Linked DNA regions of Homo sapiens. Changing the gene in region 1 together with any one later gene gives a genetic interaction. Each region holds a gene or a part of one and is shown on either strand. Other genes may lie near its edges.

What was found.
Region 2: changes in ARPC2 (region 1) and TMEM165 are lethal when combined (synthetic lethality), as found in Homo sapiens cells (one study listed by BioGRID).

What each region holds. Positions count from the first base shown.
Region 1 is NC_000002.12:218,231,255-218,247,167, reverse strand, and holds part of ARPC2 (actin-related protein 2/3 complex subunit 2), read right to left. Parts: intron 12,817-15,913; coding exon 12,771-12,816; intron 8,505-12,770; coding exon 8,318-8,504; intron 7,778-8,317; coding exon 7,684-7,777; intron 1,749-7,683; coding exon 1,622-1,748; intron 1,343-1,621; exon of another isoform or gene 1,250-1,342; intron 1-1,249. UniProt on the Homo sapiens protein: Actin-binding component of the Arp2/3 complex, a multiprotein complex that mediates actin polymerization upon stimulation by nucleation-promoting factor (NPF).
Region 2 is NC_000004.12:55,412,944-55,428,856, forward strand, and holds the end of TMEM165 (putative divalent cation/proton antiporter TMEM165 precursor), read left to right. Parts: intron 1-4,128; coding exon 4,129-4,304; intron 4,305-4,859; coding exon 4,860-5,042; intron 5,043-11,594; coding exon 11,595-11,700; intron 11,701-12,432; coding exon 12,433-12,509; 3' UTR 12,510-13,232; downstream 13,233-15,913. UniProt on the Homo sapiens protein: Putative divalent cation:proton antiporter that exchanges calcium or manganese ions for protons across the Golgi membrane.

The DNA.
Region 1 (15,913 bases):
TCTAGCTGCTTAGGTGGTTCTCTTCTTAACTCCTTTTTTTGGTGAGATAGGGTCTCACTCTGCCACCCAGGCTGGAGTGTAGTGGTGCCATCACAGCTCACTGCAGCCTCTACCTCCTGGGTTCAAGTGATCCTCTCACCTCAGCCTCTCAAGTAGCTATGACTACAGTCATGCACCACCATGCCTAGTTATCTTTTTTTTTGAGACAGTCTCCCAGGCTGGAGCGCAGCAGGATGATCTCGGCTTGCTGCAACCTCCACTTTCTGGGTTTAAGCAATTGCCATGCCTCGCTTGCCCGAGTAGCTGGGACTATAGACTATAGGCACATGTCACCATGTCCAACTAATTTTTGTATTTTTAGTAGAGGTGTGGTTTCACCATGTTGGCCAGGTTGGTCTCGAACTTCTGACCTCAAGTGATCTGCTCGCCTTGGCCTCTTAAAGTGCTGGGATTACAGGTGTGAGCCACTGTGCCTGGCCCCTTGCTTTTTGTAGAGATGAGCCTGCACCATGTTATCCAGGCTGGTCCCAAACTCCTGGACCCAAGTGACCCACCAACCTCGGACTCCCAAAGTGCTGGGATTACAGGTATGAGCCACTGTGCCCCGCCTATCCTTTACTCTTTTCTTTTTTCTTTTTGAGACAAGGTCTCACTCTGTCATCCAGGCTGGAGTGCAATGGTGTGATCTCAGCTCACTGCAACCTCCGCCTCCTGGGTCCAAGGGATTCTTGTGCCTCAGCCTCCCGAGTAGCTGGGATTACAGGCGCACACCACCACGCCCAGCTAATTTCTTTGTTATTTTTTTGGTAGAGACGGAGTGTTTCACCATGTTGGTCAGGCTGGTCTCGAACTCCTGACCTCAGGTGATCTGCCCATGTTGGCCTCCCACAGTGCTAGGATTACAGGCGTGAGACACCGCACCCAGCCTCAACTCTTTTTTTTTTTTTTTGGAGACAAGAGTCTTGTTCTGTTGCCCAGGCTGGAGTCCAGTGGCACGATCTCAGCTCATTACAACCTCCACCTCCCGGGTTCAAGCAATTCTCCTGCCTCAGCCTCTGGAGTACCTGGGACTACAGACGTGCGCCACCATGCCCAGCTAATTTTTTTTTGTATTTTAGTAGAGACAGAGTTTCACCACATTGGCCAGGATGATCTTGATCTCCTGACCTCGTGATCCACCTGCCTTAACCTCCCAAAGTGCTGTGATTACAGCCATGAACCACCGTGCCCAGCCAAAACTGTACTTGTCTCCTTCAAGCTGGAATCGAACCAGCAACCTAAGGACGTCTCCTACTGAGGAAGTAGCTATAGTCCTCTGCTCTACCAGCTGAACTATTGAAGGGACCTTAACTCTTGATATCAGAATTCAGTCTTATTTTTAAGATTTAAGAAAAATGGGGAAAAAAAGGAAAGGATTACTGTACAAAAATAGCATATGGCCTGCTCTGTAATTAATACCCTGTGACATCCCTCCTTTAGTCACTGCAATGGCAACAGGAACAAGTTGGTATGCCTGCGTTTGCCTACCTTAAAATGTTAACCAAGGTTCTGTGCAGATTTAGGTATTCTGCTGTGTGAACTCATTAAAGCGGCACAAAAGCAGCAAGTGCACCCTGCTCACCAAAGGTAATGTAGCCAATGTTGTCACCCACAGCGGCGTCTGTGTCTTTCAGCTCCAGAGGAGGTTCCCTGTGGCTAAAGAGGACCTGTGGGGCTGTGTGGCTGGCTCTGCGTCCTTCTTTGAACTCCTGCCAAGACAAAGCAAAAGCAACCAGAAGAGAAGTGGGTGTAAGATGAGTGGCAACTCAAGCTATAGGGTTTGTTCTATGTGGTGTGACCTTTGTAGCCCTCCAGACCAGCAGGAGGTTAAAAATAAACTACACCAAACCTGAAATATGACAAGTGCTAGCTGCTACCACTACACTTCAGATTCAAACGGGAGAGACTGCAAAGTACTTAATAAGTCAGATCTTCAAAATGTGATGAAAAGTAGTGATAATCCTTTTCCTTTGCACTAACATAGGTGATAAACTACCATACTTTCTCTGGGCTCTGGGACTTTGCATGAGTCTTTTTTCACTGAGGATCCTGTTGCTATTTAGAATTCATCAATAAAATCTTTAGAGCAAACTTAAGCTCTTCTTGCGGACAGAAGACAATGGAATGAAAGAAGCTGAGTTGTCTTGGTGCTCATAAAGGAAGCCCTTCCTTCTATGTTCCAATCTCCAAACCTGAAGCTTCTACAGTCCATACATTCCTATGTAAATAGACAAGTAATACAAGGCTTCTCTCTCTCAGCCAGATCTGCAAGAACAGAAGTAGATTTTCTAGCAATGCCAGTAAAACTGGATAATCCAAATTCATCAAGTGGGCCTTCCAAGATGATAGACAGCAGGAGGATGCTGCCAAGGACTCTCCAAGGTCTCTTGTTTTAGGAGTTCTGAAGGCATGGTTACACAGCCATGTGGCCTGCGTGCCCTTCTACTGCTGCTCAAATACTGCCTCCTAATACCATCTCCAACAAACCCAGGCAGGTACTGCTCTCTTGCTGGAGCTGCCATGTCTTTTCTACAAACCTCTACTATGATATTTTACCATTCATTAATGTATCTGGCTCCCCTACCAGGTTATGAGTTCAAATCAAAGATCCTGCTTAATTTATCTTTGTAATTTATTCTTCTGTCTTTCAAAGAGGCTATGCAGCACATGCCTTGCTGAGAGAAAGCAAGTGCTTCTACCCTAGCTGGTTTAGTATCATCACACTGTACAGGAATAGGCAAGGGCTGTTTCCAGTTGCAGGCAGGAAGAATAAACACTGATTAGCAAGCCCTCTCGACAATTAGTGGCAAAAGAAAGATGATGGCTGAGGAGCCCCAATGCCCAGCCTGGGACCTCACCTATTTCACAAACTGCCTCTCATGCTAACACTACCAAGCTTTAAGTAGGAAAAGAAATGACCATCAACTGGGTTAGATTAGTCCCCTTTTGAACAGATTTTGTTCCCCGAAGGAAAAATATCCAAAAAGGAAGGGAAGGAGTCAAGATTATCCCAAATGGAAATTTCTAGAGCAAAGCTTCTAAAATCGCCCTTCTCTAGAAAACATTTTTTATTCTACAAAGGGGTTAAGAAGCTTTTTAACTTTTACTGGTTTTACTTTTCGGTATTAAGGAATTAAACAGAACAGATACGTAACTGTTGGCATTTTCTTGTGTCTGTTAAGTGTCTCCAAGGCTCTAATTCACAGGTACATGTGGTATTCACAATGAGATGGGGTATTTATAAACCAGTGGTGACTTATTAGCACTCATTAGTTTTGTATATGGAAAATAACATATTTAAGGCTCGGTCAACGATACGTTTCTGGCTTGGGCCTATTCTTTCTTTCTTTTTTGAGACAGGGTCTCACTCTGTCACCCAGGCTGGAGTGCAGTGGCGTGATCTTGGCTCACTGCAACCTCCACCTCCTAGGTTCAAGTGATTTTCATGTGTCAGCCTCACGAGTAGCTGAGATTACAGGCGTGTGCCATCATTCCCGGCTAATTTTTGGCCTTTAAAGTAGAAACAGGGTTTCACCATGTTGGCCAGGCTGGTCTCAAACTGGCCTCTAGTGATCCACCTGCCTAGGCCCCGCAAAGTGCTGGGATTACAGGCGTGAGCCACTGTGCCTGACTGGGACTATTCTTTAGATTCTCTGATGTCTTTGCTTCTCCTCAGTTCTCTCTCCTAAATAAAGCTTAAACAAACAAACACACCCAAACAGCCCTCCATCTTCATTGGCATCTTTGTTATACGTAATCAAGCAATATTGCCTTTTTACTCTCCTTCTGGCTAGGATGTCTTTTGAGCATCAGATTATTTCTCTCTTCCAAAGTACTATTTATCATAGGAAGTTCGGAATAAATCCAAATATATACAAGGCATTTAGCATATGATAAAAGTAGCATCTTAAATCAGGGGTGTAAAAAAGGAAATAATTGCCACTGGGACCACTGGATAGCCATTTAGGAAAAAAAGATCATTCTTTCATACCATACAACAAGAGGAGCTCTCAACAAATAAGAAAAAATCATGTATAAAATATGTAACTGTAAAAATACTCAGAAAATAACAGGTAAATTTCTTTATAACCTTCGAGTAGGGAAGGGCTTTCTACCTATAACTCAAAATCTAGAAGCCATAAAAGGCAAGACTGATTAATTTGATTATGTAAAAACAAACTTCCACATGGTGGAAAAAACCCCACAAAACACGGTCCAATGACAAACTGGAGAAAATATTTCAACTCTTAATCACAGATGAAAGGCTACTCTCCCTAGTATGTAAAGAAATTGAGAAGCTCAATGACCCTACAGAATAATGGGTAAAGGACATAAAGAGACACTTCATAAGAAAATCAAATGGTCTATAACATTAAGAAAAGATGTTCTGACCTCAGAACATCTTTTTATGTCATCATAAGCAGACACAGATACCACCTTTAACCTATCAGATCAGGAGAAATCCACAAGTTTACAACATACTCTGGGAAAACAGGCACTCCTCTCCATCACTGGTAGATGATAAAATGCCACTACCCTGATGGAGAAGAGTTTGGCAATGTCTACCAAAATTACTGACTTGGACTCAGTGTTCCCAGTTCAGGAAAATATCCTACAGACATACCCACACATGCAAACAGGCAGAAAGGGCCCTCAAAATACATCTTTACAACTGCCTAAGAGGCAGGTGCTTGTGTCTTTGTCCCTGAACATATAAAAACCAGTGGTTTCCACTTAACTTTTCCTGGTTATTTAGTTACTAACTTGACTTTAAAATCTTAGAATATGAAAAGAATTCTAGTTCACCATAAGCTAATCTCCAAAAGCATAATTACTGGTCCTATTGCTTTTCATGGAATAAGCATTGAAATGATGGCTTCTATCAGACATTCTCCAGTACTCAGCTGATATGCCCATACCACTAGTGTGGAGGAATACACTTCCTGTCTTTTTCTGAGAGGTAGAAAGCATCCCTCAGAGCCTGCTTGCCAAATGACAAAAGCAAGACTTGAATTCTGATCAGGCTGGATGTGCATGCTGGAAGGGAAAGGCCACAAAGGCTGGCAACAAGTAGACTAGTGACCATGAGGAACTTCAAATAGTGTTCTCAGGGTACAACTTTCTGTGCCAGGTGTCCCTCATTCTTTTTCCGAGAAATTTACAATTCCAGGCCTAGGAAAAAGTTCTATTTATTTTTTGGGAAAATCCAGCAAAAGTCCAGTTTCCGATTGTCATTTCCAACAAATTACCTAAGCCTCTGAATTTGGAAAGGGTGGCAGGGCAGATGACTTCCTGAGTCTAGCTAGCACTGCACCAGGCCAGTTACTATCCAGAGATCCTGTTAGTGCCAAAATGCAAAAGAGGCTTTGTCTTTCCTTTTAGGTAAGTGCCCTACCACAGGTACCCTGAAGGAGGCATTTAAATCATATGCCAAAAAAGAATACACAAAATTCTCCTAAGGAACAAATCTCCGGTACACTCTCCAAGATAAGATCTGTTTAAAGTATAAAAATAAGTTGTTTCCTGGAATAAAATGGAATAAGATTGGTAAAAAACCAGCCAAATCTAAATATATACTTCAGAGCTTTTAAAATTAGTTTTGTTACTCTGGATTTAGCCCAATTTCTGAGCTACTGCATTTAATTCCCCTGTCAATTCTGCATAAAAACACATGAAATGCCTCTCTAGAGGCTTACTTTTAGGACCCAAGAGATACATGTATATTTATATATTCCTTCATCAAGTTCAGCACTAGCAAATGCTGAAGTGTCAATATTCCAATTTTTCTGTATAGTGACTCCCAAACTAGTTTCTGATTAATTAGCCAAAATACAAAAGCCACTAGGGATGGAGCAGTTGAGAATATCACTTTTGAAGATTTTCCTAGCCACTTAGAAGGCTATGCAAAGTATCTTTACTGTTAAGCACAGCTGTCTTTCAACTCTATTTGGCAAAAGAGATTCTGCTTCAGAATTTAAAAATCTTTACCACCCTGCCAAGGAACAGAATGAAGGTAGTAACGTTTTCAAAAAATTTTACCATTGTACTAGATTTTGAATGCTGAGCCATCTCAGAAGAAACCAGCCTGAATGTCACTTGACCAATGAACTCTCATGTCCATCCTAGAGGCAGCAACTAACTGGCCAGCAGACTGGTACACAATGACCTGAATGCAACTACACCAAAAATCCAATTACAAAATGCCCTGCTAACTCTCAGGACTCTCTTTTTTTTTGAGTCGGAGTTTCGCTCTTTTTGCCCAGGCTGGAGTGCAATGGTGCAATCTTGGCTCACTGCAACCTCTGCCTCCCAGGTTCAAGAGATTCTCCTGCCTCAGCCTCCCAAGTGGCTGGGATTACAGGTGCCTGCCACCACACCCGGCTAATTTTTTGTATTTTTTTAGTAGAGACGGGGTTTCACCATGTTGGCCAGGATGGTCTTGACCTCTTGACCTCGTGATCCGCCCACCTCGGCCTCCCACAGTGCTGGGATTACAGGCGTCAGCCACCGCGCCTGGCCTCTCATGACTCTTCTTAAGATGAGCTTCTTGTGAGGGAAGTACTCTATGGTGACCCATCCAAACTCAGGCTCAGTCTGTCAGTTCAACAACTCTACCTGTTCATGCGTTATCTACTACCAAATAATTGGCTATACAGTCCATTCTGAAAAGACCTTAGGACCAAACCAAGAGCAGCCACCTTACTAGAAATCTGAGGAAACACAAGAGGTTAGGGTTAGGAAACCTGACAAAGTTTTAGGTCAAAGACCCCACAGTAGGAAGGATGCATAACATTCATTCATAGTTAGTATGTTTAATTCTCAACTTACCCTTTAGTTCTGTCCTGCAAAACTAAACCACTGAGAAAAAAAATATCAGGCTGGGCGCGGTGGCTCATGCCTGCAATCCCAGCACTTTGGGAGGCTGAGGCGGGCGGATCATGAGGTCAGGAGATTGAGACCATCCTGGCCAACACGGTGAAACCCCATCTCTACTAAAAGTACAAAAATTAGCTGGGCGTGGTGGCGCGTGCCTGTAATCCCAGCTACTTGGGAGGCTGAGGCAGGAAAATTGCTTGAACCCAGGAAGCGGAGGTTGCAGTGAGCTGAGTTCGTGCCACTACACTCCAGCCTGGCGACAGAGCAAGACTCCACCTCAAAACAACAGCAGCAGCAACAAAAAATATTCACTGAGTTTTGTGGGAGTTGTCTATTAAATCTTCAACAAATTCTAACGTCAAGGCTGGGCATGGTGGCTCATGCCTGTAATACCAGCACTTTGGGAGGCCGAGATGGGCATCACCTGAGGTCGGCAGTTTGAGACCAGCCTGACCAACATGGAGAAACCCCGTCTCTACTAAAAATACAAAATTAGCTGGGTGTGGTGGTGCATGCCTACAATCCCAGCTACTCAGGAGGTTGAGGCAGGAGAATTGCTTGAACCTGGGAGGCGGAGGTTGCAGTGAGCCGAGATCACTCCATTGCACTCCAGCCTGGGCAACAAGAGAGAAACTCCGTCTCGAAAAAAAAAAAAAAAATTCTAACATCAGTAGAGTTGCTAGATCTCTTTCCTACGCTCATGGTATGTTTGGGTGCAAAGGTATAAGTCGCCATGCATGGGTTTCCCCCAAGATGTCTGCTCCATACCTGCATGAACACCTTTCCAATGACCACATCGTCGTCATCCTTAAACACTGTGCTGAAGACTACTGTGACTCTGTCCTTTTTAGACTCAACATACCTGAGAGGAACAAAATCCATGAGGATAAGTACAGAATCAGAATGGGGTTTTGTCAATAACTTGATCTACAAGTACATCAGAAGGCTAAAGTCATAAATCTCTTAAATCATAATATAAAGGTGTGCCAAATGAGATGATATTTATGGTCAACAAAGTCAGTGCACAAAATGAATGCCCTAAGAGAGGCAGCAGATGGAAATTATCAGAAGTAGATTTTATTGACTTGTAAATATAACATGGACCTATGGTCACCCTGCCTGCTGATTATCCAGGCTATACTCTTAAACATGACTCAGAACAGTGGTGCCTTAAAGGAAAGCACTGGATTCTCTTTCCACCATCTGTCAGCTCTCAGTATCTGGAGAGTAGGAGGAGTGGCTGATTTCTGCCCTATCATCTACTTCCTGGCTTAAGACATTTTATGAGAAAAACATTTTCACGCAATACAGCTGAAAGTTTGACCAAGCCATATTTCTTTCAGTAAGTGCCATGGTGGTGTAGCAGCCATATCCAGGCTTCAGGACCAAATTCTATACTCACATGGTCTCATCATCCCTATAATGGATAACTGCCCTGTTCTCTCCTTCCTTGCCCTCTTCTTGGAATTGGAAGTATTTTTCAAAGACAGAGGCAAAACAATTTCGCTTCAACATGCCAGCTTGATGCACAATGGAATCCTTGGATGCCGGAAGATTTTCAAGGTCATATAGCAAAGAGACATTGTATCCTGGAGGGAAAGAAAAAACAAGAAACAAAAAACAACCCAGCAGTTACATTTAAAAAAAAAAAAAAAAAAAAAAGCAGCATACTATCTATACCAAGTAAACAGAGACTAGAGGCAACTAAAAAAATCTTTTTTCAGGTTCTATTGACATTTTGTCTCATTATCTGTACTTTTAACCTGGGTAGAATATAGTCTATTTCCATCTATCTCACAGGGCAAAATGAGGTGAAATAAAATCTTAATTTTTATAAGATTCTTGTAAATATATATAATTAATGTTAATCAAAAATTTGAATCAGTATCAAAGATGACTAATTACAAATATGTAATGGGAGAAAGTCAGAACCTGGGAACTCTGATTGGAAATGTACCCTTCTAGACACAGTTGTAAAGGAGCCACATATATTTCTCTGATAGTTTAATGTGCCAAGTATCAGTATGGCCAGCAAATGGGTAGCTTTGTGATAATAAGATAAACCCTTCTACGTGCCACTGCAAACTCTTTATGAGGTGGCAGGGTAGAAAAACCAACTACCTGTTCATACATATACCTCCCCAATAGCTTTTATTGGTATATATTGTACAATTTTTAAAACATTTTACTTCATTTGATCTCCATAACCACCTTTGAAGTCTGCAGGCTAGATAAGGTTACTGTTTTGCAGAGGGAAAAGGAGATTCAAAGAAGTGACGTGACTTGCCAAATGCAGCATGACACATAAGTGTAGGGCACTCTATTTTGAGTCGAACAGAACTGGGTCCAAATCCTAGTCTTGTCATTTTGTGACCTTAAAAAAACTGCTGGGTGTGGTGGCTCACACCTGTAATCCCAGCATTTTGGGAGGCCAAGGTGGGCAGATCACCTGAGGTCAGGAGTTTTGAGAGCAGTCTGGCCAACATGGCAAAACCCTGTCTCTACTAAAATCACAAATATTAGCCAGGCATGGTGGCGGGCGCCTGTAATCCTAGCTACTTGGGAGGCTGAGGCAGGAGAATTGCTTGAACCCAGGAGGTGGAGGTTACAGCGAGCTGATATTGCACCACTGCACAACAGAGCGAGACTCCAGCTCCAAAAAAAAAAAACAAAAACAAAAAAAATTGCCTGACTTGTTAATTTCCTCATCTGTTAAAAAAAAAAAAAAATTGGTGGTGGGGGGCAGGTAGGGTGGTCTGGGCACAGTGGCTCAAGCCTGTATTCCCAGCACTTTGGGAGGCCAAGGTGGGTGGATCACCTGAGGTCAGGAGTTCGAGACCTGCCTGGCCAATATGGCAAAACCCCGTCTCTAATAAAAATACAAAATTAGCTGGGTGTGGTGGTACACGCCTGTGGTCCCAGGTACTCCGGAGGCTGAGGCAGGAGAATTGCTTGAACCCGGGAGGTGGAGGTTGTAATGAGCTGAGATCGCGCCACGGCACTCCAGCCTGAGCAACAAGAGTGAAATTCTGTCTCAAAAAAAAAGAAAAAAAGAAAAAGGAGCAGGGCAGGGGGTGCGGAGATAGGGGAGAATGTTGTGAGCATTAAAAGAATGTTCAATACTTAAAGTGTGTGGAACATGACAGGTCATCAATACGGGTGCAGAACATGGACTGAAACCATTGGATGACCTGCCTTTTTACAGCATGTCCACTATGAATTCCCAGAAGCCGGCTGGAACACTTGATTATAGAATCAAATGATTAATAAGTGTCAAACTGCCTAGAGATGTTTTTGCAAGAATATTTCTACATCACTGAGGATCATTTTATATTCTAGGCAACTGACGGGAATAACTTCACCAGAACTGTATGGCTTTCACACTTCTAAGTATCTGAAACCTCATTACTATTTCATTTTTTCCCAAAAGCATTCCTGAGATCTGTATTTTTTTTTTTTTGAGATGGAGTTTTACTCTTATTGCCCAGGCTGGAGTGCAATGGCATGATCTCGGCTCACCACAACATCCGCCTCCCAGGTTCAAGCGATTCTCCTGCCTCAGCCTCCTAGGCAGCTGGGATTACAGGCATGCGCCACCAGGCCTGGCTAATTTTGTACTTTTAGTAGAGACGGGGTTTCTCCATGTTGGTCATGCTGGTCTTGAACTCCTGAATGCAGGTGATCCGCCCGCCCTGGCCTCCGATAGTGCTGGGATTACAGGCATAAGCCACCGCGCCCGGCTGAGGTCTGTGTTTTTTGTTGAGCATGGGCTCTTCGGGAGGATGGGCTAAATCTTTGCTCTAGATAATGCTTAGCACATTTTATTTAATACTGGAGAGGCACTCCAGTATTAAATAATATCAATCATCATTCTATTTTGGGTACTTGAAAACCAAATAAGCACACAGATTACAAGGTTAGATTAAAAAAGAAAAGATTTAGAGCTGAGGTTTGCTAGTTTTAGGAAGCCAAATAAGAGCAAATAAAACTATAGCTAAGGTAAAGTCTGTCTTTAAGTAAGGCTTCTAACATGATGAACAGAATATACTGAGGATGAAGAGAAGTAAAAATCTAGTATAACTTGCTGAGTTTTCCAAACGTGCCTAGATAAACCCATTAAAAAAGAGGAGGAGAGACTCTACGGTCTTTTTTTTTTTTTTCTCGAGACTGAATCTTGCTCTGTCGCCTAGGCTAGAGGGCAGTGGCGCAATCTCAGCTCACTGCAACCTCTGCCTCCTGGGTTCAAGCGATTCTCGTGCTTCAGCCACCTGAGTACCTGGTATTACAGGTGGCTGCCACCATGCCTGGCTAATTTCTGTATTTTTTATAGAGACAGGTATCTCATTATGCTGCCCAGGCTGGTCCTGAACTTCTGAGCTCAAGCAATTCACTCACCTTGGCCTCCCCAAAGTGCTGGGATTACAGGTGTGAGCCACTGCACCTGGTTGAGACACTACTTTCACACACTTTTACATTTCACACTTCTATGAAGACAGGGTCTGCAATCTGGCAATGTCTATGATTTAGTGGGAGGTAGAAGGAGGCCCAGGGACAGAAACATAAACTTTCCATGTCAGGATGTTGGCTGTGACAAGCATGCCCAAGACTTTGGACATGATTTTTCTGTTCTAGATCTGTTTGTTTCTTTCTTTTAATACCTTGATTTTGCCAAAAGCCTACAGTGTTATCTTGGCTTTTATTTCTGTGACACATTCATCCCGCCAATTTGGAGATTAAAAAAAAAAAAGGTGCTGGGTATGGTGGCTCATGCCTGTGATCCCAACTCTCTGGGAGGCGGAGGCTGAGGTGGGTAGATTGCTCAAGGCTAGGAGTTTGAGACCTCCTTACTCTGTTTTGGCAGTATGGGCAGCAGACAGTGAGACTCTGTTTCTACAAAATATTAAAAAAATTAATTGGGTATGGTGGCATGTGCCTGTAGTTCCCAGCTACCGGAGAGGCTAAAGCGGGAGGATTGCTTGAGCCCAAGATTTGGAGGAGGCTGCAGTGAGCTATGACTGTACCACTGCATTCCAGCCTGGGCAACAGAATGAGACTGTCTGAAAAAATAGGTGAGGTGATGAAATAAGCTAGCACAAGTAACTGCTGTTAAGAGTGACAGAGAACTTCCTTCTTAGAAGACTTTTCTAATCAAGGTACCAAAGTTGTAATAGTTGAGTAAAAAATATTATGTTCCAATGGTCTTACTACCTGGTTCTCACTTTGGGGTCCTGCTAAATGCCTCAGAATTTGAGACATGCCACTGAATCACAGGGTAAAAAGGCTGTTCAGTTTTTCCACTTTAAACCTCCTTTTTAAAGCAGTATAACATAGCTGTTCTATTCAAGGATGACACGGTGCCTTTCAATTCCTCTGGCCATGAATGTTGAGACAACCTATTAGAAGACTGGATTAAGAAAGGGTCTGATTTTTATTACTTGAAATCACAAGAATAGTGTGGTGAATATTCCTCTTCTTTCTCCAAATATGTAGTATGCAGAATTACTAAGGGCCGAGGGTGGGAATCAATGTTTGCTCATTCTTTTCAAAGCCATTTTAATCACCATGAACAAACAAATGTGGCCCTCTGGCTGAAAGATTAAGTAAGAGTCATGTGGCCCCATCAAGTAAATGTTAAAAATGTCACACATCAATTTTGTACCTCTACTGTGTTCCATATTGGACAAAGCAAAGCCCCTTAAAAGCTATTTTTATGGACGGAGTTGAAATTAGGAATGGGCTCATGCAGAAATATTTGTAATAATATTTAAACGAAATCCTTTGGGTAAAAAAAGCATAATATAAAAAGGACACCTCTCTTCCCATGTCATTCCATAGTTGCTCACATGACTACATACCTGATTCTGGATTTACCAAGAAACTCCCGTACACCCTCTTTAATAACTAGAAAATAAAAACAAAACAAAACCAAATACGTTAATCCAAAGGCCATGATAATTTCATTATTTTTAAAGTACTGCACTTGCCAAGCTCTTCCTAAGTTGGCATTCTTCCTAACTTTCATTTGGTGGATGGGAAAGTAGAGACAGAGGGGAAGTGGATTTAGTCACCAAACAAGTCACAAAACTGAGATGAGTATCTTTTTATGCCTGGGACAGAGTGCAATGGCGCGATCTCGGCTCACCACAACCTCCGCCTCCTGGGTTCAAGTGATTCTCCTGCCTGAGCCTCCCAAGTAGCTGGGATTATAGGCATGCGCCACCATGCCCGGCTAATTTTTTTTTGTATTTTTAGTTGAGATGGGGTTTCTCCATGTTGGTCAGGCTGATCTTGAACTACTGACCTTGGATGATCCACCCGCCTCGTCCTCCCAAAGTGCTGGGATTATAGGCATGAGCCACTATGCCTGGCCGAGAATCTTTAATCAAAGCTCATCCTTTTTTAGGACTTGACTACACCCTTAATATGTTCTCTGTTCTCCTCCAGATCCTACATTGTACTTAATCATGTTTTGTTTTCAAGAGAGCAAAAGGATGCCAAATTCCAAGTGAGAGAACAGATTGTTAGTTATCAACCTAAGTACAGACTGAGCCACTAACCCAGGTGAATAAAGAGAAAAAACCAGGACTCTCGGGAACTGATCTGTTTGTCTGCTGATCTTGTATGCTTTAAAATTACTCAGTGCATAGCCAGCTCTTAAGGCAAAGGACAGTCAATAATGAAATCTTAGCTAGCTATTAATACTGGTGTCCAGAAGGTTGTATACTCTCCATGTCTTTCCCCCCAAACCAGAACCTACTGCTGGCTACTTTCCAGGTTTTTGAATTAAATGAAAACAACAACAAAAAAAACCCAAAAAACCAAGAACCCCTTTTATACCTTCTGCTATGGTTTGAATGTCCTTTCGAAAACTCATGTTAAAAATTATGATTTTTTTTTTTTGAGACGGAGTCTTACTCTGTTGTCCAGGCTGGAATGCAGTGGTGCAATCTCAGCTCACTGCAACCTCCATCTCCTGGGTTCAAGCGATTCTCCTGCCTCAGCCTCCTGAGTAGCTAGGACTACAGGCATGCACCACCATGCCTGGCTAATTTTTCCACACCCAGCCAAAATTTACGATTATTATTATTGTTTTGGAAGCAGGGTCTTACTCTGTAGTCCAGGCTACAGTGCATTGATACAATAGCTCACTGCAGCCTTGAACTTCTAGGCTCAAGTGATCCTTCTACCTTGGCCTCCCAAAGTACTGGGATTACAGGAGTGAGCCACCATGCCTGGCCACATGTTGAAATTTAATTGCCACTGTGACGGTAATAGGTGATTAGGCCATGAGGGCTCTGCCCTCATGAATGGATTCATGTTGTTATAGGGGAAGTTGGTTTGTTATTCACAAGAGGGGCTGTTAAAAAAGTGAGTCTGGGCTAGGTATGGTGGCTCATGCCTGTAATCCCAGCACTTTGGGAGGCCGAGGCGGGGTGATCACGAGGTCAGGAGATTGAGACCATCCTGGCTAACACAGTGAAACCCCATGTCTACTAAAAATACAAAAACAAAAAAATTAGCTGGGCATGGTGGCAGGCGCCTGTAGTACCAGCTACTTGGGAGGCTGAGGCGGGAGAATGGCGTGAACCCGGGAGGCAGAGCTTGCAGTGAGGTGAGATCGCGCCACTGCACTCCAGCCTGGGTGCACTCCAGCCCGGGTGACAGAGCAAGACTCCGTCTCAAAAAAAAAAAAAAAAAAAAAAAAATTGAGTCTGGCCCTCTCTTGCCCTTCTGCCTTTTGCTACAGGATGACGGGAAAGGGCACGAAGGCCCTTGCCAGATGCTGGTGCCACGCTCTTGGACTTCCCAGTCCCCAGAACATGAGTCAAATAACATATTTTCTTCATAAATTATTCAGTCTGTGGTATTCTGTTATAGCAACAAAAAACAGACTGAGACTCCCTATTTTTTTCTCTGTCACCGTGACTGCTTCACCTGGTGGAAACTGCTTCCAGAATGACATGGCTTAAGAAACAAACATTTTATTTTAATTTAATTAATTCTTTTTTTTTGAGACGGAGTCTCACTCTGTCACCCAGGCTGGAGTGCAGTGGCGTGATCTCGGCTCATTGCAACCTCCACCTCCTGGGTTCAAGCAATTCTCCTGCCTCAGCCTCCCTAGTAGCTGGGATTACAGGTGTCCACCACCACACCAAGCTAATTTTTATATTTTTTAGTAGAGATGGGGTTTCACCATGTTGCCCAGGCTGGGCTCGAAATCCTGACCTCAAGCAATCCACCTGTCTTGGCCTCCCAAAGTGCTGGGATTACAGGCGTGAGCCACTGCGCCTGGCCTACTTATTTATTTATATACAAAGACAGGGTCTCACTACGTTGCCCAGGCTGGGCTTGAACTCTTGACCTCAAGCGATGCTCCTGCCTTGGCCTCCAAAAGTGCTGGGATTACAGGAATGAGCCCCCACGCCTGGCTGAACAATAATTTCCTAATATTCCACATATTTATTTAACCATTTTCCTATAGCTGGAAGAAATTTTCAACCTGCAAGACTACATTTTCTTACACAAGGGCAAAAGATAAATAATGCCACCTGTAGTTCCTATTTGGTGATTGCACAGCCACTGTGAGGTATTTCTTTTACCGAAGAGGAATTGAGAGGAGGGGCTCAAGGTCACGAGAGTTTCTTGGTGGCACAGAGAGACTTGACCTTCAGGTGTCTGATATACCACTTCTTTAAAAAAAAGTAACATGCATATCCCAAGAATTTGAAACAGCATGCGACCTCTGAGCTACAAGTCTGTGTTGCACGTACTATTGGTATTTCGAGGAAGGGGAAATCAGATGTGGTGGGGATTTAGTTTAAATCCCTAAGTCCCTAAGATTTAGTTTAATTTCAAGCTTACTAAGTTAATATTCTGAGATCTAAGAGGTACTGAGAGCCAAATTTATATCATGTTCAACTGCTTTGCTCCCTCCCCTTGGTAAAACCAGCCAACACTTCCTTGTCACTTCACTTGCACTTTTAACCATGATTCACTT
Region 2 (15,913 bases), on another chromosome or scaffold:
CTTAATGAGATGATAGGGCTATTTTTTATTTATTTATTTATTTATTTTTTTTTAGAGACTGAGTCTTGCTCTATCACTCAGGCTGGAGTGCAGTGGCATGATCATAGCTCACTGAGACCTGGAACTCCTGGGCTCAAGTGATCCTTCCACCTCAGCCTCCTGAGTAGCTGGGACCATAGGCTCATGCCACCATGCCCAGCTAAATTTTTTGTTTTTTGTAGAGACAGGGTCTGGTTGTGTTGCCCAGGCTGATCTTGAACTCCTGGGCTCAAGCTATCTTTCCACCTTAGCCTCCCAGTGTACTGATATTATAGGTATGTGTGCCTGCCCATCCTTTTACCTTGTATTTATTTTTTAAATTTTTATTTATTTATCTTTTTATTTATTTTGAGACAGACTCTTGCTCTGTCACCCAGGCCGGAGTGCAGTGGCATGATCCCGACTCACTTAAACCTCCATCTCCCAGGCTCAGGCGATTTTCCTGCCTCAGCCTCCCAAGTAGCTGAGACTACAGGCACATGCCATCACGCCTGGATACTTATTGTATGTTTTGGTAGAGATAGAGTTTTACCATGTTGGCCAGGCTGGTCTCAAACTCCTGACCTCAAATGATCGCCCGCCTTGGCCTCCCAAAGTGCTGCGATTACAGGCGTGAGCTACCACGCCTGGCCCCTGGCCCATCATTTTACAATTTTTAAACATTTTATAGAAATAATTTTAAGTTTACAAAGCAGCAAAAATAAAATAGTATGAAGAACACTTATATAACTTTTGCCTAGATTCACCTGTTGTTAACATTTTATCCCATTTGTTTTAGCATTTGTACTCTTATCTAAATAAAATTGTAAATGTGTATATATACACGTTGTTTACATACCTGTCTATAGTGTGTACATATACATACATTATTTATAAGCTATATAATGCACACATATAATCACAACATTTAATATATATTATGTATTGATACAGTACTTGAATCTGTCATCCATATTTTAATTTTGGATGACCTAATGTCCTTTCTTGTTTTTTGAAAGGACATAGGCTGGGCGCGGTGGCTCACGCCTGTGATCCCAGCACTTTGGGAGGCTGAGGCAGGCGGATCACGAGGTCAGGAGATCGAGGCCATCCTGGCTAACACGGTGAAACCCCGTCTCTACTAAAAAAATCCAAAAAACTAGCCAGGCTTGGTGGCGGGCATCTGTAGTCCTAGCTACTTGGGAGACTGAGGCAGGAGAATGGCGTCAACCCGGGAGGCAGAGCTTGTAGTGAGCCGAGATTGTGCCACTGCACTCCAGCCTGGGCGACAGAGTGAGACTCCGTCTCAAAAAAAAAAAAAAGGACATGAAATTTTTAAATATTTCACTTGTGTTATCAGTTTTATGTAATTTAAGTGGGTTTAACAGTCTTTATATTATTTTGCCTCAACTGTTAAATCATATGTGTTTATTTCTACATCTTCTCTTTTATAGCTTTATTTAGTTTTATAGATTTAACCACTTTTTTTTTATACTTTATGTTCTGGGATACATGTGCAGAACGTGCAGGTTTGTTACACAGGTATACATGTGCCATGGTGATTTGTTGCACTCATCAACCCGTCATCTAGGTTTTAAGCCCTGCATGCACTAGGTATTGGTCCTAATGCTCTCCCTCCCCTTGCCCCTGACCCCTCAATAATGTCCTTTATATCAGTGTTTTTCCCTTCGGTCTAGGTCAGATATTGCATTTAGTTATTTATTATCTTTTTAGTCTTTTAATCTGAAATATATCCATAGCCTTTTTTTAAAATGTTTTCTGACATCAACCTTTTTGGGAGAATTACAGTGTATCCCTCCTCCCTCCACCCCAGGAATGGGCTGTTCCCCATTTTTTGTTTGTCTGATGTTTCCTGATGGTTAGATTGAGGTAGGCATTCCTGACTAGAAAACTGCATAGGTGATACTTTGTCTCTCCAAGAATGTCTCATCTGGAAGCACATGGTGTCCATTTATTCCTCATTGGTGACATTAATTTTGGTGACCCAGTCAATATTTCTTTTCTGTGTTGTCTTCCCTTGCAACTACTATCTAATCTGTAGGGATATACTTAAAGACAGTACAAATACCCTCTTCCTCATCAAAATTTCTCCAAAGATTTTGCATCAATTGATGATTCTTGCATAATTAGATCTTTCATTGATGCTTGCAAAATGATGCTTTTAATTCTAATACTTCTTGCATATTCACCAGTGAGCCTTGGTATTCTACTGCCAGCAAGAGCTCTCCTTCCTTTCCCATTTGTTTGTCTTTTTACTAGCAGTACAAACTTATGGATTCCTTTTTTCAATGGTTTATAATTAATTATTTAACTATTTTGCTGCTTAAATTATCCGATGTTAGGCCAGTGAGAGCCTCTCCAAACTGTGTCCTGTGTCTTTGTGGCATGCTCCCATTTGATTTTGCTCCTCACTTTCTAGTACAACAAGATATTACAGGTTCATCATGCACCTGCTCTGCCCAGTCCTGGAACTGGCCATTTCTCGGCGGAGCTTTGAGGAGCTTTTTAGGGGAGAATGGTATTAGAACCCAAGATCTAGGTGCAAGGTTACTGAGCTCCTTGTTACTGAGATGTCTTTGCCTCTTGTCTTTTTCAGTGGACAGAGCTAGAAAATATATGCTTGTATCCTGTGTGTACACATACATATATACAAATATACATCCATACATATATACACACACAATAATTTAAATACAGATGTGCACACAAACATAGGTTTGCTGCATTTCTAACCATGATTTTAAGATCTTTTCAGTTTTGTAATGTAGGGAATTATTTACATACAGGTTATACATTTACAGGCAGATTTGTAAGTGTTGCACCCGTTTTATAAAAAGAGCTGGTGAATTAAAGAGTAATTGTATTTTTCTTTCTTTCTTTTTTTTTTTCTGAGATGGGATCTCACTCTGTTGCCCAAGCTGGGATGCAGTGGCATGATCGCAGCTCACTGCAGCTTTGACCTCCTGGGCTCAAGTGATCCTCCTATCTCAGCCCCTCAAGTAGGCTGGGACCAAGGCGTGTGTCACCCCGTCAGGCTAATTTTTGTATTTTTTTTGTAGAGACAGGATTTCGCCATGTTGACCAGTGGTCTCAAGCTCCTGGGCTCAAGTAATCCGCCCGACTCGGTCTCCCAAAGTGCTGGGATTACAGGCATGAGCCACCGTGCCTGGCCAGAGTAATTGTATTTATTATATGTATGGTCGTGTCCTCTGTTCCTTACATAGTTGTTTTTGTTTGTTTATGAGACAGGGTGTCACTATGTTTCCCAGGCTGGTTTTGAACTTCTAGGCTCAAGCAATCCTTCCACCGTGGCCTCCCAGAGTGCTGGGATTATGCCACTTTGCCCAGCCAAATTTTTAAGTTTTAATTACTGAATGAGTATTACTGATATACTTGTGTTTCACCATTAGGATTTGAGTTCTTGATATAGTTCCAAGCATCATTTTTTATATAACTTACACAGATGTCTTTCCTTATCAGTGGGAAAGAGTGGAACTGAATGTTTGAGCCTGTTGTAACATTATTTTAATATAATAAGAAATTTTTAGATTTTTTTCATAAAACGTACTTATTTTAAATAGTTACAAGGGAGCAGAGTTTAAATCTTGCTATGTGAGACTTTTGTCATGATTCTTCACTAGAAGTTTGTGATTTAAAGATTTGTGATGAAGAAATTCCACTATGCAAGTGGCATGGCTTCCCAGTTATAAAATCTCAGCTCTTGAGAGGGCCTCAGAGCTAACTTCTACCCCAGGTACTGTGCCTTGCACAACATAAGGCAAGCCAGCCTCTGACTGAACATGCCTGGAAAGGAGTTCAATATCTTACTTAACATCTCTCAGGAAGATGTGCCATCTTCAACTGGACCATTGGCTTCTGAGTAAGCTGTGTTAGGCCTGGGCTAGACCTAATGGTTTATTATTGGTGGAGAGAAAGATCTGGAAATACTTGAGGTTATTACATACTAGATTAGCTTCTAATGTGAACCATTTTTCTTTTAACAGTGATAAATTATTATTTCCGAAGTTAACTGTTCCCTTGGTCGTGATACACACTCGATTAACAAACATACTGTTGTATTTTTTCCAGTTTTGTTTGGCTATGCCACCACAGTCATCCCCAGGGTCTATACATACTATGTTTCAACTGTATTATTTGCCATTTTTGGCATTAGAATGCTTCGGGAAGGCTTAAAGATGAGCCCTGATGAGGGTCAAGAGGAACTGGAAGAAGTTCAAGCTGAATTAAAGAAGAAAGATGAAGAAGTAAGCCATGGCACTGTTGATCTGGACCAAAAAGGCACTCAACTAGGAATAAACACTCTACAGAGGTTTCTCAGTGGCCCCATCTGTGTGATATGCGGGGCTACACAAAAATAGCTTCTTTTGCTTTGTTCTGTTCTTATACCTGTCTGTGATCTGACTTGGGGTTGGTGTGAATGTAGTAGAGAAAGGAAGCTGACAGATGAATACTGAACACAGGTAATCAGTTTCCTTAATTAGGTTGATTATAAGCTCCTGAAAAGCAGGAACTGTATTTTATAATTTTACCTGTTTCTCCCGTGGTGTCTAGGATAGTAAGTGAGCAGAGCAGTAAATACTGTTTGGTTTGTTCAGCTGAGGAGAAACGGAAGAATTGAGACTATAGCATTTGTTGCTGTGTGAGACCAGTGGTTCAGAGGGGAGGTTTGGGGGTCACATAAATGTAGTTTTTTTGGAGCATATTTCATAGAATTTAAACACTTAGAAAAGTCAAGTGATTTGTGTGCTATTTTGATTTGCTTCCTGTGCTTACTTTCATTTGTTTATTATTTATTTTAGTTTCAACGAACCAAACTTTTAAATGGACCGGGAGATGTTGAAACGGGTACAAGCATAACAGTACCTCAGAAAAAGTGGTTGCATTTTATTTCACCCATTTTTGTTCAAGCTCTTACATTAACATTCTTAGCAGAATGGGGTGATCGCTCTCAACTAACTACAATTGTATTGGCAGCTAGAGAGGTGAGTGATATTTGAGAGGAGACTGTTTAAAATGAAACGTAATTATTATTACTTTGTTCCAGAAAACACTGGACACACTGAAGTGGGCCACAGCATTCCTTCATATGCAAGACTGTTTTACATCTGATAATTCAGCTGCTCTCTAAAATTGGCCTTCTCCCAGTTCCTGCTACCTGCAGGTGAAATTCTTGTAACCAAGCTCAGTTGGGCTCTTTTTACTCATCCTTTTCCCTTTGGTTTTGCCAAAATGATGCCGTGGTACTTGTCATCTTAGCTTGGTTTTCTTATCATAGAACTTTCTTTTTTATAGTTGTTGAGAATATAAATCAGTATAATATTATTGAAGGCCATTTTGGTGTTTAATACCTAAAGCCTTAAAAATGTGTAGCTAGCCGGGCTTGGTGGTATGCACCTGTAGTCCCAGCTACTCAGGAGGGTTGAGGTGGGAGGATTGCTTGAGCCTGGGAGGTTGAGGCTCCAGTGAGCTGTGTTCGCGCCACTGCACTCCAGCCTTGGTGACAGGGAGACCCAGTCTGAAAAAAAAAAAAAAGTGTATAGCTTTTCGTTCATGTGTTACACTAAAGAAATTGACTGTTGCACAGACTACTTATAATTATTGTAACTTAGTAAAAATTTAGAAACAGCCTAATAATCCAGCAGAAAATTGGTTCAGCTGTTTACAAATCTCTGTGTAGCTCTTAGAATATTCACTCTTCAACATCATTTCAGTGACATGGAAAAATTTTAAAAGGAGGTTTACTTTTAAAATATAAAAAGAAGGCCGGGTGCCGTCCCTCACGCCTGTAATCCCAGCACTTTAGGAGGCCAAGGTGGGCGGATCACCTGAGGTCAGGAGTTTGAGACCAGCCTGACCAGCATGGAGAAACCCCTACTACTAAAAATACAAAAATTAGCCGGGCAAGGTGGCTCATGCCTGTAATCTTAGCTACTCAGGAGACTGAGGCAGGAGAATTGATTGAACCGGGGAGGCAGAGGTTGCAGTGAGCCTAGATTGCACCACTGCACTCCAGCCTGGGCAGCAGAGTGAGATGCTATCTCAAAAAATTAAATAAATAATATATAAAAAGAACAAAAAAGACTTAAGGAAATAAAAACATTATTTTTATTTCAGTGCTTATCTATCGTTGCGTACTGCTATTATGGGTAATTTATTTATTTACTTTTTGGTAGGGGTGGGGTCTCACCATGTTGTCCAGCCAGTTTTGAACCCCTGGCCTGAAACTTCCTGCCTCAGCCTCGCAAATAATCCTTCTGGGATTATAGGCGAGAGTCACTGCTCTGGCCTAGGTGACTTGTTTGTTTCTGTGTAGGAACTTTTTGTTCAAAAAGTCTTAGCCCAAGAATCCTAAGTTCTGGAGTGGGAAGCTAGAGACCTCAGCTCATCTTGTAGCTTTTACTCTTCAGATGAAGAACCTGACCCCCAGAGAGATCGGGTGACTTGTGTGAGGGAGTAAGCTGGCTGGCTGTGGCCTTCTTCACAGTTGTTCAATGCCACTTATTTAAAACATGCCCATTGGTTTTTTATTTTTTAATTTTTCTTTTGATGGGAATAGCAAGGTTTTATATGAGGCGCCTGTCATTGTTCACACAGATTTATTAAGATTTCATGTGGAGACGGTTGTGGAATGGAATACTGCTGCCACTTTTCAACCTCTTTTTCATCTTAACTGATACTATTTCTTATCTGTGTTTATATCAGATTCTCTTTTTATAAGAGTAAAATTGTTTCTAATTCCTTGGAACTATCATAAAAGAACAAGTTCTTTAATTATAGGCTGTGGTTTAAAATACAAGACAGTTGAAGGCCAGGACTAAGATAGATGGGAAAGGCTATTTTGTCAGGGAAGCCTCAAAAATGCTGTATTTTGGGGAAAAAAAATGGAACTCTGATTTTCATTTGATTCTCATAAAACAAACTTTCTTTAAAAATATCACTTTAATTAGCTGGGCGTGGTAGCGGGTGCCTGTAATCCTAGCTGCTAGAGAGGCTGAGGCAGGAGAATCACTTGAAACCGGGAGGCAGAGGTTGCAGTGAGCCGAGATGGTGCCACTGCTCTCCAGCCTAGGTGACAGAGTGAGACACTATCTTAAGAAAAAAAAATATATATATATATACATATATATTTATTTATTTATTTATTTTATTTATTTATTTAATGGCTGTACCCTATATTCTTCTTGATTTCTAGCCTTTTATTGGCTCTCAGATTGCCAGAGTTGGGACTCAATAGTAAGTAACCATTTTGTTGAGGTGGTAGTGATTCTACCAGGGTGAGTTATCATGACAGCAGAATCACTGCGTTTTTCTCTCTACTCTGTGGCATAGACTCTATGCCATAGAGTGACGTGTGAAAGGCTTGAGGCTCCCTACCTACGAGACACCCTGGTCCATTCTAGCAGTATGGCACGTGCTGACTGGGTTTTGAGTCTCTTGCTGTAAAATCACATTACTGCACTTCCCTGCATTTTCTCATCCAAAAATGGGGATTACCTGCTTTGTGGATCGGTTTGCAGATGAAATAACACACGCAGGGTATCTAGCATGGTCCCCCACATGGCACATTCAGTGTTAGCCACACTTCCATACTAACTGCCCTGCGGGGATATTTAATGAGCTCTTAAATGGCAGAAATGTTGTGTCTTTTCCTGTTCCCTTAGTATTCCTATTTTTGTTGGTAATTTTTCTTATGAACCATGCAGTTGTCTAGTTCAGGCCATTTTAGTATGCAGTTTTATCTTTGCTTCCAACATGATTTAATGTTCCCAAATTGGATTTCACATAATCCTAGTGTCCTTTGAGACTTGAATTGGTTCTAGGCCAAAAAAGGGTGAGGGGGAAGGAAGAAATTCAGAGTCAAATTTGGCAAATAATATATCCCTGTCGTTTTGTTTTTTCTTTTTAAGACTTGGGCCAGGTGTGGTGGCTCACGCGTTTAATCCCAGCACTTTGGGAGGCTGAGGCAGGCAAATCACCTGAGGTCAGGAGCTCGAGACCAGCCTGGCCAACATGGTGAAAAATACAAAAATTATCCAGGCATGGTGGCCCACGCCTGTAGTCCCAGCTACTCGGGAGGCTGAGACAGGAGAATCTCTTGAACCCGGGTGAGCCGAGATCGCGCCACTGCACTCCACTCTGGTCGACAGAGCTAGATTCCATCTCAAAAAAAAAAAAAAAAAAAAAAGACGACTCAGTATACAAATAAAGACTGGAAAGTCCTATATTAAAGGAACTAGTTAAATACTAGTTTATTTTACTTAATCTAGTGAATTTTTAAATATTTTCTTTCTTTCTTTTTTTTTTTTTTTTTTTTTGAGACAGGGTCTGGCTCTGTCAACCAGGCTGGAGTGCAGTGGCACAATCTCAGCTCACCTCAACCTCCACCTCCTGGGCTCAAGCCATCCTCCCACCTCAGCCTTCTGAGTCTGGGACTACAGGTTCCCACCACCATGCCTGGCTAATTTTGTATTTTTTGTAGAGACAGGGTTTTGCCATGTTGCAGAGGCTGGTCTCGAACTCCTGAGTTCATGCAATCTGACCACCTTGGCCTCCCAAAGTGCTGAGATTACGCCCGGCCTAAATATTACTTTCAAATAGAACCATCTTCATGGGTAGCAGTTTATAATACACAAGTAGAATTTGGGAAATGTAGTCCCAGTCTTCCATTCTTCACAGTGGATGCTTCAGCCAGTTTCCTGTCTCTGCACACACACTGCCCGACAGCGGGCTTTCCCTTCTCCTTCAGAGCAGTAGCAGTTCCCTTTCTTCATTCCCACCCATCACAGTGGCAGCCCCCTCTGCCCTCCTGTATTCTGAATCCCACCCTTATAATATGCTTAGATTTTGCCTTTCTCCCAGCCGTTTTGTGAGCATTGTTCGTGTGTACCAATTTTTTCTCATCCTTTAAAAAGAAAAAAAAAAAGCCCCTTTTCTCAATTGTACATCGCAAATCCAACTCTTGCCCTCCTGCAGTGTCAGAGGACTTGGCTGTGATGGGAATAAGCCTTGGCTCTGTTCTCCTTGCATACTTAGCCCATGGGAACCCAGTTTCTGGCCTCACCAGGAATGTTGTTGTGCTTTGAGCTCCCTGTGGCCTTGCATGATGCCTCCGTTGGTCCTTACAGGAGGTGATTGGCTGGCCACCTCACTTGCTTTCTCCTGTGGACCCTTCTTTCTCTGTCCTTCCTTGAATGCTGCCTTTGTCCCTCATGATTATGCTATCAACATTCTTCTCTTTCTGCTTTCTCTGTAACAGGTTTATTGACTCTTTTTTTTGAGAGTCTTGCTCTGTCACCCAGGCTGGAGTACAGTGGCACAATCTTGGCTTGCTGCAACCTCTGCTTCCTGGGTCCAAGCGATTCTTCTGCCTCAGCCTCCCGAGTAGCTAGGATTAGAGACATGTGCCACCAAGTCTGGCTAGTTTTTGTATTTTTAGTAAAGATGGGGTTTCACCATGTTGTCCAGGTTGGTCTCAAACTCCCAACCTCAGGTGATCTGCCTGCCTCGGCCTCCCAAAGTGGTGAGATTACATGTGTGAACCATCCACCCACCCTGATTCAACTGACTCTTAACTTTAAAAATCACATTGGTCTTACCATACATAGTTCATCAATTGTGGGAGAGAAACTTGGGTGTCATGCTTTATTTATTTATTTTTTTTTTGAGATGGAGTCTCACTCTGTCACCCAGGGTGGAGTGCAGTGGCACGATCTCAGCTCACTGCAACCTCAGCCTCCTGGATTCAAGCCAATTCTCCTGCCTCAGCCTGCCCAGTAGTTGGGACTACAGGTGCCTGCCACCACACCCGGCTAATTTTTTGTATTTTTAGTAGAGACAGCATTTCACCATGTTTCAGTCTCCTGACCTCGTGATCCACCCTCCTCGGCCTCCCAAAGTGCTGGCATTACAGGCGTGAGCCACTGCACCCAGCCTATTTTTCTTTTTTTAATAAGAGATGGAGTCTTGCTTTGTCACCCAGGATGGAATTTGTAGCATAGTAGTGTGATCATAACTCACTGTAGCTTCAAACTCAGGCTCAAGTGATCCTCTCACCTCAGCCTCCTGAATAGCTGGAACTACATGCATGAACCACTGCACCATTATTTTATTTTTAAGAGACGGGATCTCGCTGTACTGCTCAGGCTAGCCTTGAACTCCTGGCCTCAAGTGATCCTTCTGCCTTAGCCTCCTGAGTGGCTGGCTCCACTCTGCTTGGCTCTGATATTTTTCCATAAAGCCTATCATTCATTTATCATGGAGGTATGTTAATTTTGCCTTCTTAATTTCTCTCAAATTCACCTGCTCTTTGCCTACAGTCATCTGCCCCGATCTGGGGCAACGCAGTTTCTTCCCAGGGCTGTTGCCATAGCATCGCAGTGGATCACCCTTCCTTCAGTCTTGTTCCCCTCTGGTTCTTTCTCTCCACTAGACTTTAAAAAATTTTTGAGATAGGGTCTTGCTCTGTTGCCCAGGATGGAGAACAATCATAGCTCACTGCAGCCACGACCTCCTGGGCTCAAATGATCCTCCCACCTCAGCCTCCCGAGTAGCTGGGACCACTTGTGCTTGCTAGGATGCCTGGCTAATTTTTAATTTTTTTGTAGAGACAAGGTCTCACTGTGTTGCCTAGGCTAGTCTCAAACTGCCAGGCTCAAGCAATCCTCTTGCTTCAGCCTCCCAAAGTGTTGGGATTACAGGCATGAGCCACTGCACCTGGCCTAGCGGATTTCTGAAGCATTAATCTGTTCTGTTACTTTCCAGCTAAAAACCAACAAGTGTCTGAGGACACAGTTTAAACTCCAAGATGATAGGGTCCTCCCTCACCTGGACTCCCACCTACCCTCATGACCTCCTTTTGTGAAATGCTGAAGGGCTCTGCAGCTGGTTGTCTGGTACTGCTGGCCTTTGCTTTCTATTTAGCATGTTCCTTCTCCCACAAAACAAAATCACATTCTCACTATGCCCTGTTCATTCTTCAGGACTATCTTCTGGGAAACTTTTACTACATACCCCTCTCCCCCTAATCTGAGTGTCTGCTTTGCTCAGGTAACATGTGTTCACTGGATAAATCCTTGATTCCTGGCACTGAGGCAGGGTTTCTGTTCCCAGGAAGCAGAGGCATACTATTCTGTGAAGGATTGACTGAGTTTCTCCTAATACCAAGCAGTATCTGAGGGAACAGATGTCTAGCTTAAAATCCTCCCTAGCACTTGTCATAGCAGTGCTACGTATTGCCTGTGAAGGAAGTTTAATAACTGCTGAAAGGTTCGATTAGCTTTATTTCATCAGGATTTGTTTGACTTTACAAATTGATTTGGGTTATTTCAACTTTTAGGTCTAGTCTTAAGTATAACTGGTACATATTCCTTCAAGCAGCCATTACACCTCTCATAAATTTATTATACACCTGCATTTTTATAACTATTATGCTTTTTAATTGTTGGCCACCATTTTTAGTGCTTCTGAATTGTTATGGTTCTCAAGCAGCAGTTGTCACCTTGGTTTTGAATTAATGCTGTGACGCTTGCTTCCAGGACCCCTATGGTGTAGCCGTGGGTGGAACTGTGGGGCACTGCCTGTGCACGGGATTGGCAGTAATTGGAGGAAGAATGATAGCACAGAAAATCTCTGTCAGAACTGGTAAGTCTTGAAAATTACAAATCAGATAACATTTTAGAATCACTGAGAGATTAAAGGGTGTTAGCTTTGATTATTTAAATTTCTGCTGCTGAAGTATACTTGGTTTTTCTAATTACCTACCATCTCTTATAGAGGTATTAATCCTGGTATTGCAAATACGGACTTTTTTCACCTGTGTAGAAGTTAGCAAAATACAAAGTCATTTTTATCGAATTCATAGTAGCTTCTTGTTAACATATTATCTTAGTAAAACAATTGTCATTTGGAAGTATGAGAAGTTTTTGGCTCTAAAAATGTGTCTTACAAGACTGGAATCATGTGGAGACCATATGTACTGATTCTGCTGAATATGTCCTGTGAAGCCACAGTTAGGTCTAGAGATGGAAGAATCGTCTCTTTGCTAGTCAGAAGACCTGAACATTTTCTTTTATAACTGGATTTTAAGATGAGTTATAGTTCTACTGTTGCTTGCCAGCACTGTCTGGATTTAATACAATCCTGTCATTTCTCAAAACAGTGCTGGAGAAAACCTGATTCTTAGTGTTCACAGTCAAGCATGTTAAGTATTGTTCCTTGTTATGTAAAAGGGGTTGAAGTGATTCTAATTTGTTTTCAAGGTTAGTTTAATAGATTGGAAGAATAATTGGCCGCCTCATCGGCTCCCTTTTCATTTTGTACAGTATCAAGGTATAGGAATTTTACTGTATTTGACTTTTTTTCTCTCTCTTCCAGTGACAATCATAGGAGGCATCGTTTTTTTGGCGTTTGCATTTTCTGCACTATTTATAAGCCCTGATTCTGGTTTTTAACAAGCTGTTTGTTCATCTATATTTAGTTTAAAATAGGTAGTATTATCTTTCTGTACATAGTGTACATTACAACTAAAAGTGATGGAAAAATACTGTATTTTGTAGCACTGATTTTGTGAGTTTGACCCATTATTATGTCTGAGATATAATCATTGATTCTATTTGTAACAAGGAGTTTTAAAAGAAACCTGACTTCTAAGTGTGGGTTTTTCTTCTCTCCAACATAATTATGTTAATATGGTCCTCATTTTTCTTTTGGTGCAGAACCGTTGTGCAGTGGGGTCTACCATGCAATTTTCTTTCAGCACTGACCCCTTTTTAAGGAATACAAATTTTCTCCTTCATCACTTAGGTGTTTTAAGATGTTTACCTTAAAGTTTTTCTTGGGGAAAGAATGAATTAATTTCTATTTCTTAAAACATTTCCCTGAGCCAGTAAACAGTAGTTTAATCATTGGTCTTTTCAAAACTAGGTGTTTAAAAAAAGAGACATATATGATATTGCTGTTATATCAATAACATGGCACAACAAGAACTGTCTGCCAGGTCATTCTTCCTCTTTTTTTTTTAATTGGGTAGGACACCCAATATAAAAACAGTCAATATTTGACAATGTGGAATTACCAAATTAAAAGAGAATACTATGAATGTATTCATATTTTTTCTATATTGAATAAACAATGTAACATAGATAACAATATAAATAAAAGTGGTATGACCAGTGCTTGTTTTTCCTTGTGTGTCATATAAAATTATCAGTATTGATAGGCCAATTTCTAAAGCTGATGTAAAAACACTAACATATTAAATATTTGAGATATGCCTAAAGTAGCTAAACAGGAGCCAGGCATTGTTCGAAAGCATTGTCACCCTTACAGTTCTGTGAGGTAGTAGGTACTAATATAAGGTTAAAAAAGAAAAAAACTAACTCACCCAAGGTTACATGGTAGAGTCACACCAGGCGGTTTAATTCCAGAGCCTAATGTCATTCATTATGCTAAGACTACCTCATTTTTTCATGGCAACTTCAGTCGTCACCCTCGTTTGAGTATATTTTGATTTGACTACTACTTCACCCAAGTAGCATAACAGCTGCTTTCTCTCAGCCTTTTATATTCTAGAATCATATGCAGTAACATTCCCATTAATAGCCTCACTAAATTGAAGGACAATTCTACAGAAACATCCATGTTATTTGTGTGAGGTATAATAGGAGACCCAGAGCAATTCAGGTTTATGAGCTACTACAAAGGTCCACAATGTAGTCTGCAATTTGAAGAGATTGTGAAAGAACCCAGTTAATCATCCAGCACTGTAGGATGCAGCAATTGTCCTACATGGTAACTCTGTGAGGAAGATGATAGCTACTACTGTGGAGATCTTAAGAGGAGTTTTCAGCTTAAATGCCAAGTTAGAAGTAGCACATGTTGGTAAAAAAGGTCATATTTGTAGTTTTCTGCTATAGGAAGTATCAAAGGGTAGAAAACAATGTCTGTGGATTAAGATAAACTCTGTGGTTAGACAGTCTATATTGCCTTAGATTGTTTGTTTGTTATAAAGAAAGAGTGAGGAATTCTCACTAGTATTTTTTTTTTTTTTTTTGAGAGAGTCTCACTCTGTCGCCCAGGCTGGAGTGCAGTGGTGTGATCTTGGCTCACTGCAACCTCCACCGCCCGGGTTCAAGCAGTTCTCCTGCCTCAGCCTCCCGAGTAGCTGGGATTACAGGCGTGCACTACCACGCCTGGCTAATTTTTTGTATTTTTAGTAGAGATGATGGAGTTTCGCCATGCTGGCCAGGCTGGTCTCGAACTCCTGACCTTATGATCCGCCCACCTCAGCCTCCCAAAGCGCTGGGATTACAGGCGTGAGCCACCATGCTTGGCCTACTAATACGTTTTGTTTGTTTGGAGACAATCTATCTCACTCTGTCACCTGGGCTGGAATGCAGTGGCGCAATCTCGGCTCACTGCAACCTCTGCCTCCTGAGTTCAAGCAGTTCTCCTGCCTCAGCCTCCCAAGTTGCAGGGATTATAGGTGCCCGCCACCACGCCTGGCTAATTTTTTTGTATTTTCAGTAGAGACAGGGTTTTACCATGTTGGCCAGGCTGGTCTTGAACTCATGACCTTAGGTGATCCACCCACCTCAGCCTCCCAAAGTGCTAGGATTACAGGCGTGAGCCACCGCACCCAACCGTTTTTTCTAATAACAACAGAAAAGACAATTCCTCGTAGGGAGTAGCTGGCACCATCATCGTGTAACCTCAGTTCAGGTAGCTTGGTCCCATTACTAGCTTCATATGCGAATAAGAACAGCATCGCATTCTGAGGCACCACAATCTTGTAGCAGGACATAATTCCTCTGAGAATTTTTGGTAAGTCAGACCTAAGCTATAAGGTAAAAATCGCTACTGCAATAGGCTCCATTGTTGAATAAAAGAAAGGGAAATGTCATTGATAGTGATCTTAAAATATTTAATAGTCTTTCTTTAAAATCCAAAATGTGATTCTTACAAGTTATGTGCCACATGAAGCAGGTGTTATTTTTTGAGAAATGCAGGTGATAACTGAAAAACATAGCACTGAGGTATTTTTTATTTTTAAAATTGAAGGAAACAAAGTCTGGATCTAATTATTTTTACATTTACAAAAACTGCTACTGCTTGGCTCTTTTGCTATAAGTTTAGGTTCTGAATACATGACAAGAGTATGGGAAAGAGCAGAATAATAGTACACGCAGTTTTAAAAGCTATGCACATCATAACCTGGAATAATGATTACACAGCAAGAGGCCTGAGTGGAGGTAGGCTAACAACACATTTTGACTTTCTCCTCAAAGGATAGCTTTGAAAAACAAGTGTAACCAATTGTTACACCAAATTAAAATGGCAATATTAAATCGGTAACAAAACGATCCACATTTTATACAATATTGTATTTCCAAACATACATAGGTCATGAAAATCAGAGAACCTAATATAGCACCGTTGAAACCATTCATTATCCTTCATGTGTGTATGCAATTCAGAATTTCGGCAGAAGACAACAAATGGAAAATGCCTTTCGTTTCTATAAATCATTTTGGATTTCAATTAAATCTTTGCCTTAGTAAAGGGTATTCTTATCTCAAGATCAATTAGCCGTTTTTAGCTCCACCGTTTTGGAAGTAAAAATGATGAGCTACATCTACTTTTTAATTTAAAACCAAGAACCAAGCAGTAAGGACAGCAATGTCAAGAATATCACATTGAGAACCACACAGAACATTATAAAGAATTTGGTGCATGTTTTAACAACTACCAACTGATGTTAACAATGAAAAATTTACAAAGGTAAAACTTTTTTTTTTTTTTTGCACTGACTGGTTTCAATACAGCACTGAATTTAACTCATCTTTGGGCTTCAATC